2 separate regions of the Homo sapiens genome follow, and region 2 is linked to region 1. The links come from fine-mapping of genetic effects on gene expression. Tissue or cell type: whole blood. Region 1 holds a variant in brackets; the other region holds the start of a gene. All regions are shown on one strand. Distances are from middle to middle. Region 1 overlaps ESR2 (estrogen receptor 2). Region 2 holds the start of MTHFD1 (methylenetetrahydrofolate dehydrogenase, cyclohydrolase and formyltetrahydrofolate synthetase 1).

Evidence for each region.
Region 2: MTHFD1 starts here. The variant in region 1 is fine-mapped to the expression of MTHFD1 in whole blood (TOPMed, PIP above 0.99).

What each region holds. Positions count from the first base shown.
Region 1 is chr14:64,287,792-64,293,173 of GRCh38, forward strand. All of the region lies in intron 1 of ESR2 (estrogen receptor 2), which reads right to left. Among named protein-coding and RNA genes, the nearest start is that of ESR2, 3.9 kb to the right of the region's middle. The variant T/C (reference allele first, on the strand shown) is at 2,634.
Region 2 is chr14:64,385,506-64,390,887 of GRCh38, forward strand. MTHFD1 (methylenetetrahydrofolate dehydrogenase, cyclohydrolase and formyltetrahydrofolate synthetase 1) reads left to right here and starts at 2,848. Exons shown (of 28, transcript NM_005956.4): 1 at 2,848-2,963. The coding sequence starts at 2,923. RefSeq lists enhancers at 1,911-2,010, 2,031-2,090, 2,611-2,700.

The sequences.
Region 1 (5,382 bases):
AAGGAAAGACTCCCCAAAAGATTTAATTTCTTTAACATTGTAGGGCAGAGTTTTCCCAACACATCGATTGAATGTTCAAACATGGCCTCAGTACAATGTTCTGGTACAACAGGAAAAAATTGTCTCTAAAGAGTTTAATTGTTGGGCCTGGCATGGAATTTCACCTGGCCAACCAAAGAACCAGTACCCAGACATCCTGATTCTAAGAATTATTCATTTATTTGCATGTCAATTTTCTTTAGTCACCATAACCTAAAATAGTTGGTCCATATCCTGGGTGGTGAACAGGCTTTGTTTTCTGTCCAGAGACCTCTCTCTCTCTCCCAGCACACACCCCTGTATTTGGCCCTCTCAGGTCACATCTGAATTCAGCCAGAAAGCTTTTTGTACACATGGGATCGTGCATGGTGTTCTAATGTACTGGCTGGGAAACATACTATGGCTTTTGAATTAAAAGAAAAAAGTAGTATTTAAAATTCCCAATTTTGACAATGATTCATGGACAAGAAAAAGTTTGGCCCTAGAAATGGCAGAAAAACACTCCAAAAAGACTACACTTTTTTTTTTTTTTTTTTGAGATGGAGTCTTGCTCTGTTGCCCAGGCTGGAGTGCAGTGGTGCAATCTTGGCTCACTGCAAGCTCCACCTCCCGGGTTCAGCCATTCTCCTGCCTCAGCCTCTCAAGTAGCTGGGACTACAGGTGCCCGCCACCATGCCCAGCTAATTTTTTCTATTTTTTAGTAGAGACGGGGTTTCACCATGTTAGCCAGGATGGTCTTGATCTCTTGACCTCGTGACCCGCCCGCCTTGGGCTCCCAAAGTGCTGGGATTACAGGCATGAGCCACCGTGCCAGCCAAGACTAGACTGGTTTTTATCAAAGCACCTGTAAATCTAGTTAATAAGAAATCAGTCACCCGGGCGCGGGTGGCTCATGCCTGTAATCCCAGCACTTTGAGAGGCCAAGGTGGGCAGATCACCTGAAATCAGGAGTTCGGGACCAGCCTGGCCAACATGGAGAAACCCAGTCTCTACTAAAAATACAAAATTAGCCGGGTGTGGCAGCGCTTGCCTGTAAACCCAGCTACTCAGAAGGCTGAGGCAGGAGAATCGCTTGAACCCAGGAGGTGGAGGTTGCGGTGAGCCGAGATCACGCCACTGCACTCCAACCTAGGTGACAAGAGCAAAACTCTGTCTCAAAAAAAAAAAAAAAAAAAAGGTCAGCCACCATCAAGCCTGTTCTTATGTATATTCTATCAATGGATAGAGCAGAACATTCATTCTAGCCCCAGCTCTGCCTGAAAGCCAGGCAATCTTAGACAAATCCACAAACTCCCTGAGCTGCCACATCTTCTTCAGTAGAATCAGGTACCTATTTGGTGCTGTACCTTTTCACGGTGCTCTGAGGGTGAAATGAGATGATGTCTGTGAAAGGATTCTGAGGCCGGGCGCAGTGGCTCACGCCTGTAACCCCAGCACTTTGGGAGGCCAAGGTGGGCAGATCACCTGAGGTCGGGAGTTTGAGACCAGCCTAACCAACATGGAGAAACCCCGTCTCTACTAAAAATACAAAATTAGCCGGGCATGGTGGCACATGCCTGTAATCCCAGCTACTCGGGAGGATGAGGCAGGACAATCGCTTGAACCTGGGAGGTGGAGGTTGCAGTGAGCTGAGATTGTGCCATTACACTCCAGCCTGGGCAACAAGAGCAAAACTTCATTTCAAAAAAAATAAAGAAAAAGAAAAAGAAAAAAAAAAAGAAAGCATTCTGTAAGGTATTATTACACATCCAAGAAGATGAAGCCAGTCTATTGGTATATCACTGGATACACATTTAGTGTTGGTTGGAATTTCCAGACAAGTTACAATGTCTTTATGGCCACCCTGAAGATTTTTGCCTCCTAATTTTACTTTTTGACTTCTGTCCACAGAAATCCATCACCCCTAGTCCAGATAGCTGGGCTGCTGGTAGCCTGCCAACACTGTGTGTGTGGACAAAATGCCACATATTCCTGATGCCATATTCTCAAGCTTGCAGACTAGGAGGATAAGTCTAGGAGGATAAGAATAGAGGATAAGTCCTCATCCCTATTCTTCTTCCACCTGCCCATCACACTTTCCCAAGCATTCAGTTCAAATGCTCCACATTTGTGTGTCCTGCAGAAGTAAAAAATTCACGCTCACAAAGCAGCAACTAGAAGGAATTTCATGGAAAAGATTTAAAAAGATTTCTTAAGCAACAAGCATCCTTGATGTGCATAAGTAGCTGTTTGACAATTATTAGCTTTTTTGGGGGGTGGGGGTTATACTCTAGCTCTGTAACTCAGGCTAGAGTGTAGTGGCAAGATCATGGCCTACTGCAGCCTTGATCTCCTGGGCTCAAGGGATCCTCCAAACTCAGCCCCCCAAGTAGCTGGGACTAAAGGCATGCACCATCATGCCCAGCTGATTTTTAAATTTTTGTAGAGATAGGGTCTCACTGTGTTGCCCAGATTGATCTTGAACTCCTTGCCTCAAGCAATCCTCCCACCTCGGCCTCCCAAAGTGCTGTGATCACAGGCATGAACCACCACACCTGGCCAATTATTATCTTTAAATGTATTCTTATTTATTTATTTATTTATTTATTTAGAGA[T/C]AGAGTTTTGCTTTGTTGCCCAGGCTGGAATGCAGTGGCATGATCGCGGCTCACTGTAAACTCGGCCTCCCAGGTTCAAGCAATTCTCATGCCTCAGCCTCCTGAGTAGCTGGGACTACAGGCTTGAGCCACCATGGCCAGCTAATTTTTTGTATTCTTAACAGAGACAAGGTTTCATTATTTGGCCAGGCTGGTCTTGAACTCCTGCCCTCAAGTGATCCAGCCACCTAGGCCTCCCAAAGTGCTGAGATTACAGGCGTGAGCCACCACACCCAGCCTTTTTAAATATATTCTTTCAAAACAAAATATTAAGGCCCTCAATTAATTTAATATTAGGAAGATAAAACACTCCAAAATCACCAGAGAACTCATCATTAATAACTGATTTGCATGTAATTCTTAAGAACATGTACATAAGGAAACCCTGTTTCCTTCTAAAATGAGGAAAAGCTAATTCTCCTAGTAACCAATTGGCGCTTATTTAGTTGGATAGGAAAGAGTTTCAAGGGTTTGAATAGGGTAGGAGGACCAAGCCTCGAAGGCAGGGGTGGGAGAGAGTTCATCAGTCTTCTCAAGTGTCTTCTCTCTCAACAGCAAGTTTCTGCTCTTCCCTAACACCAACAACAGCCACAGACCATGCTCTGTAGGAACTGGACCAAATTCAAATATTCATTTGGGACAGGGTCAGAGAGAATTCCGAGTGAAGGGATTCAAGATGACACAGCCAATCCAGAAGTTAGGCTGAATGCACTCAACTCCCCTTCCAGGCCTGGGTTTGACAGTAGAACACACAACAATTTACTAACAAAATGCTGCAGTCTGGCTTTGAGGAAACATATACAAGTCCAGCAATCTATCTTTCTAGGTCACCCTAACTCTCCTGCCCTCTCTCAAGTACACCCACACAAAGATTCTCCACTAAAAGCCCTTCATTTTCAAGACCTGTCATAATTCCAGCTAGGAAGGCCAACTATCCAGTTTGCTAGCTCCTCATAAACTTGCCACTCTGCATATCCTAGTTACTACCACTGTAACTGGGTATGCAAGGTAAGTTACATATTTAAAATACAGGCTGTTTTTCATAGAACAAAGGAAAAAGGAAAAAGACATCAATTTTATATATATATATGTTAGCAGTACCTACCAATAACAGGCTCCTAACTGTATACTGAATTGAATACTGTGTTAAACAGTGAAAAATATTAGTTTACAAAAGGTTATACATCTCCACCCTGCAGGAAAATCTAGACTTCAAGACATGAGCACAGAAATTTAAAAATCCTGACATCTACAAATAAGTTGGACACAGACCTAAGCCCCTATGAAGATAAATATTTTACCTTCAGCAATTGTAATCACTCTGCATTTTAAATGTCTTCAATTTGTCATTTTCAATCCCTGTTTTGCTTCTCACTATTTGATAATATGCAATTTCAGGTAGCTTTCTTAATCTCAGGTATAATGAAAAGTAGTTTTTTTTTTAATAAAGAAGTTTTAAAATTCAAAGATTATAAAAGAATGATGCATTCTATTAATATGATATAAATAACTTTTAATGGCCTTGTATTTCAATTCAGGATAACTAATGATATATGCCATAACCAAAGGCTTAAACCACAATAGAATCTAAATCTGCTAAGAACTAAATCTATTAGCCCTATATGAATTTAACACTTAGTCCAAGTCTCAAGTTTCCCATTTGCAAATAGCATTGTCTTTGCCTTGATTTATCCCAAGGTACTAGAATTAAAAATAGCACAAACTGACTCATCCTATAAAAAGGGAAAAACAGGTTTTTCTTTCAAAAGAAGTAAAGGAAAATATGTCTAAGTAAAAACGTACTAAAGAGCAAAACCACATAATCATTATGTAGTTTTGATCAGTGATTTTCAGGGGCAGTGGGGTAGGTAGAGGTACAAAGGGGACTTTTGGGGTAATGGAACTGTTCTGTGTCATGTGTGCGGTGCTGGTTACATGACTGTGCATCTGTCAGAATTCATAGAGGTACATTTACAGAGGCTAAATTTTACTGTATGTAAATTATACTGCTGTAGCCTAATTTTTTTAAAGTGCTATTGCATATAAAACAATGTGCTAGACACTGAATTATGAAATCTAACGTTCAAGCATACAATTCTCAAGGTTTCTAGATGTATTATCAAAAACTTATCATTAAACACTTTGAGTTCAGCCTTCAGTATTTTATATTTTATCCATATTTATATTCTATAAAACGACTCAAAGCATCACCTAAAATTATCACATGAATTTTGAATTATTATGTGTTCAACATACACTTATAGAAAATTTCCTTCTTATTCTTAAAAGTGAACATATCAATATCTATTAAATGTTAATTATATGGTTATGAGTTGAATTTACTACTAAATTCTACCTTTTCTGAATTATAAATACATTAAGAAATGTAAACTGTGATTAGATTTATTCACATCCCTCAGAACACTACGAAATGTGTCCTAAACATGTTAATTGATTTCAGAAACTTCTATGTCTTGAGCAAGACTTAAGTGTTAACAAGCATCTGATGGCTTTTAAAATAAGAATGTTTCAGAAATTCATCTAAAAAAATGCTTGAACGTAAAATGCAATCCTACGGTGTATACTCTAATGCCTGTTGATGAACAGATCCTTATAGTTTCCTTCTTCTAGAACTCATATCAAAATACATTTTCTTCAGAAAAAATAGGAGTCAAAGATGTTAATCATGTTCTTTTCATAGTCACGTTAC
Region 2 (5,382 bases), 98 kb after region 1:
TACAATACCCTTGGTTGGATCTCATTCAATCCCATGGATTTAAATATCTTCTCTCCATTTGGATGTCTAAGAGAAATCTAAAAATGTCTAAAGCCGAATTCATAATCTTAACCCCAAAACCTAGTCCTACATTTTACTTTATTTCAACTCAGCGAATGGCAATTCCATCTTTCCAGTTGCTCAGAGCAAATCCCTGCTTTCTTTCTTTTACATTCCAAGTTCCTCTCTTCATTAAGGTTTCTGCTGAAGTCAGATGCCCAAAGAAATCTCTTACCACATTTCTGAGACAAAACTTTCCCACCTCCCAGCATCACTGCCTATCCTCTTAGCTTGCCTATTTTTAAAATATAGCATGTCATAATCTCTAAAATTAGCCTATGTATTTCTTTAACTTGATCGTTGTCTCCTCCACCAGAATATGAGCTGAGAGCAGAAACTTTGCTGGTTCACTAGGGTATCTCTAGCATCTATAGCAGTGCTGTTGGCATAGTGGCCACTCAATAATTATTTGCTCCATGAATGAACGATTTATGCAACTCATACATAGATAACTGTCAAAAACCAGGCTGTTGAGATGGCAAAGGCAGTAGATTTAGAGAAGAAACATCAGGTTTGGGGCCTATACCAGCCACAGCTATGCAGCTTTGGGTATTATCCTTCAAAGTCTATCCCTCTGTAAAACGGGATTTCTGCCATCTTCCTCAACAAATAAGAAAGCTGGAATAGTCAATACCTATTTGATAGTATAAGACAAAAGATTCACTATCTGCAATTTACCAGAAACATTTCCTTCAATTTTCTTCTTAATTTCACTTGTTTAGGTACAACACAATATGAGACAATGTGTTTTAGGGTTATTATTATAATGACATTATATTACTAAGTCTGTGCCTTTAACATATCACTTGTGCAAACTTTAAGAATAGTAACTTTAAGGCCACGCACGGTGGCTCATGCCCATTATCCCAGCATTTTGGGAGGCCAAGGGAGACTAATCCCTTGAGATCTAGACCAGTCTGGTCAACATAGTGAAACCCCAACTCTACCAAAAATAGAAAAATTAGCCGGCGTGGTGGCATGCACCTGTGGTCCAAGCTACTCGGGGGGCTGAGGTGGGAGGATCATTTGAACCCGGGAGGCAGAGGCTACAAAGAGCGGAGATCATGCCACTGCACTCCACCCTGAGCGACATAGCGAGACTCCGTCTCAAAAACAAAAAAACATATATTAGAAATAATTACCAGAAATAGAAAATCACAAGAGATTATCTAATCCCGTATATGGGGCTACTATAAATAACCTCAGAATTTAGAAATAAGAAAAAAATATTAAAAGCCCCAAAATTAATAAAAAATCAGTTTTAGGCCAGGTGCGGTGGCTCACGCCTGTAATCCCAGCACTCTGGGAGGCCGAGGCGGGTGGATCACGAGGTCAGGAGTTCAAGACCAGCCTAGCCAAGATGGTGAAACCCCGTCTCTACTAAAAATACAAAAATTAGCCGGGCGTGGTGGCGGGCTAATTAGGTGGTGCCTGTAATCCCAGCTACTCGGGAGGCTGAGGCAGAGAACTGCTTGAACCCGGGAAGCGGAGGTTGCAGTGAGCCAAAATCGTGCCACTGCACTCCAGCCTGGGCGACAGAATGAGACTCCGTCTCAAACAAACAAACAAAAAAAGTTTTAGATGAGCTCTGCCAGTAGTAAACGGCTTGTAAAAGAAACCCGGTATCTGGTCAAGTCCTAAGTGACCTGAACCACGCATCTTCAGGACTCTACTGGGATGACTGTAACCTGAACGCGGTTCCTAGAGCAGAGCAAGCATATTCCTTGGACTCAGTAACACAAGGGGCCAGTCCTCTCCAGCATCCCAGCTGCCACCGCCCTGTCAGGCTCCCCAGGCAATTGTCCATCTTACTCCTTCTCCAGCGTGGACGCTTAAGGGGAGGGAGCATCCCTCCTCGAGGGTCAACTGGCATGTAGCTTACGAAGACCGCGTGAGTTCTCCAACCCCAGACTTGCTGCGGGGCGGGGACGTGGGGGTGACAAAATCCAGACTACGACCCTCCATGAGCCCTGGCAACCCCGGGGTGACCCCAACACCGATGAGGCCACGCGCGCTCCAGCTCTGACACTCCTTCCAGATCGGCGGGGCCTGAAACAGCGGGCTAAGCTTCACCTACGGCTGAGCGTCAGATTCAGCTGAGGAGATTCTAAAAGCGCTATGCTGGGCCCAGACCCAGGCCCTCCAGAGCAGAACGCGGAGGGGCCCGACCCCAGTCTGGTGGCGTAGGTGTGTGACAAAGTATGAGGGCGCGCCAAGCTCTCCAGTTCCACATCTGCTGTCGAGTCCAGCGCCTGCCACGCTCCCGTGCGGGGACCCGCCCAAAACTCCCTGGAAGCCAGGCGATTCAGACCCCGCCACCGCGTCCCCAGAGACTGGGCGGAAACCGGAGACTCGCCTCCCGAACCCGCGAAACTATCTCCCGCGAGACTGCCCCGCCCCAACCCCGCCCCGCAACTCTACTCCCTGATTGGCTGGAATTACGGCCGGATTCCGGAGTCCTTTCCAGCTCCCTCTTCGGCCGGGTTTCCCGCCGAATACAAAGGCGCACTGTGAACTGGCTCTTTCTTTCCGCCAATCATTTCCGCCAGCCATTCATCACCGATTTTCTTCATCTTCCCCTCCCTCTTCCGTCCCGCAGTCCCCGACCTGTTAGCTCTCGGTTAGTTAAGGGACTCGGGTCCTTCCGAACTGCGCATGCGCCACCGCGTCTGCAGGGGGAGAAGCGGGCAGGGGCGCAGGCGCAGTAGTGTGATCCCCTGGCCAGTCCCTAAGCACGTGGGTTGGGTTGTCCTGCTTGGCTGCGGAGGGAGTGGAACCTCGATATTGGTGGTGTCCATCGTGGGCAGCGGACTAATAAAGGCCATGGCGCCAGCAGAAATCCTGAACGGGAAGGAGATCTCCGCGTAAGCACCTGACATTGTTGTTGAGTGTGGGGCTGTGGACGAGGGCTCTGAGGGTGTGCAGGTCCCCCGGACCCATTTTTTGCGGGAGGGACACTTGTAGCGGAAGAGTTAGGCCCATAACACCTGAAGACCTGCAGCCAAAGAAAGAGAACCCGGGCACAACCTGCGTTTGCAAGTGGACTGCCTAGTGGCTGTAGCCGCTGGCTCCTGTGCTTCGGGGAAAAGTCCTGTGCCGACTATGCTCCCAAACGCGCAGCTGCTGGTGACTTTCTGCCGGGAGAGTGGGTAGTTGCGGCTTCCTGGAGCCCCCCTAGTCAGAACTCAGAAATCCAATCTACTTAATTCCCGTTAATTTGGAGGTGAGTAGATGGAGACTAGTGAGGTGACAAGGCTTGACAAGACTACAAGGCTGATAATGACAGAGGGTCCTTCCAGCTCATAGCTTTTCCCACTATACCATAGTCTTATCATACGCTAAGTGAAATCTAATACATTTTTCCTTTCTCTTCAATCTCGTGCTTCTCTCTAACAGCCATCTCTCTGCCCTGGTCCTAGAGTTACTTGAAACGTAATTTGGCTCCTGAGTCCTGAGAATATTCTGCATTCCACTTGACCTCTGCCTGTTCTACCCTTGCGGGACATCTGAATGCTTAATTAGTGGGTATCGTTGCCAGCTTTACTCCCAGGAAGTAACACTGGCTGCTTTTTGTCTGGGAGGTGACTGGTGAGGAAAAATGAGAGTAGAAGGAAGAGGGAAAAATATATTCCCTCTAGTAGATGAAGGAGGGAAAGATATATTCTGTGTGACCTTACTGAGTTTGCTCTTGGGACCTTTCACATCACCCGTTATGTAAGTAACTGTTGCCAGCCACAGCAGTTACTAAATTGTAATTGTCCTGTAACTCCTAACTTTGTAATAGGTTTTTGAGTGAATTACAAAGTCATCGGTGGTGAAAAGTCCGGGCCCAGTGGCTCATGCCTGTAATCCCAGCACTTTGGGAGGCCGAGGTGGGTGGATCACCTGAGGTCTGGAGTTCAAGACCAGCCTATCCAAAATGGTGAAACCCCATCTCTACTAAAAATACAAAAAATTAGCCGAGTGTGGTGGCAGGCATCTGTAATCCCAGCTACTTGGGAGGCTGAGGCAGGAGAATCACTTGAACCTGGGGGGCAGAGGTTGCAGTGAGCTGAGATGCGCCATTGCACTCCAGCCTGGGCAACAAGAGCGAAACTCCGTCTAAGAAAAAAAAAAAAAGAAATCACAATACTTACTGCTTAGTGCTTTTCAACATGTGGCTTGCTAAACTGTATTTCTGCTTTACTTTCTGTTTTTGTTTGCTTGTATTCAAACTTACTTCCTTTTCCAGTGGCTTTTTGTTTTAATATAAAAATCTTCCTTTTAGAAAGACTGATTGTGAAGAGATAATTTAGTGCATAATAATAGTGCAGATAATTTAGTACAATAATAATGCATCTGGGCCAGTACTGAGAATAGGTGCTCACTGAATATACTTTCGTTAATTGGAGAGCAAATTAAATATGTTTATCAACTCCATAAGGGCAAATACATGTATTGTCTTATTTTTGTCTATATCCTAAACACCTGGAAACCCTGTTTCCTGCCTTACTACTTGTGTGGTTTTAAGCAAATTAATTAACCTTTCTGTGCCAAAGTTTCCTCAAATGTTAAGTAAAAGTAATGTCTAGGTCATTGGGATGTTAGTAGAATTAAATGGGTTCCTAACAGATGATCATTTATAATTCTTCCTGGCACATAATAAGTATTCGATATATGTTGTATTAATAATCAGTAATTAGTTAATGTATATATGAATGATTCATTATCTTTTTTTTTTTTTACATGGTAGCTGCTGCCTTGAGATCTATTTTTTTTTTTGAGATGAAGTCTTGCTGTGTCCAATCTTGGCTCACTGCAACCTCTGCCTCCTGCATACAAGCAATTCTCTCATATCAGCCTCCTGAGTACCTGGGATTACAGGTGCCCGCCATCACGCCTAGCTAATTTTTTTTTTTGAGATGGAGTTTCACTCGTCGCCCAGACTGGAGTACAATGGCGTGATCTCGGCTCACTGCAACCTCTGCCTCCTGGGTTCAAGCGATTCTCCTGCCTCAGCCTCCCAAGTAGCTGGGATTACAGGCGTCCGCCACCATGTCCAGCTAGTTTGTTTGTTTGTTTGAGACAGAGTTTCACTCTTGTTGCCCAGGCTGGAGTGCAATGGCATGATCTTGGCTCACTGCAACCTCCACCTCCCAGGTTCAAGCGATTCTCCTGCCTCAGCCTCCCGAGTAGCTGAGACTACAGGTGTGTGCCACCCCGTCCGGCTAATTTTTGTATTTTTAGTAGAGACGGGCTTTCACCATGTTGGTCAGGCTGGTCTGTAACTCCTGACCCCATGTG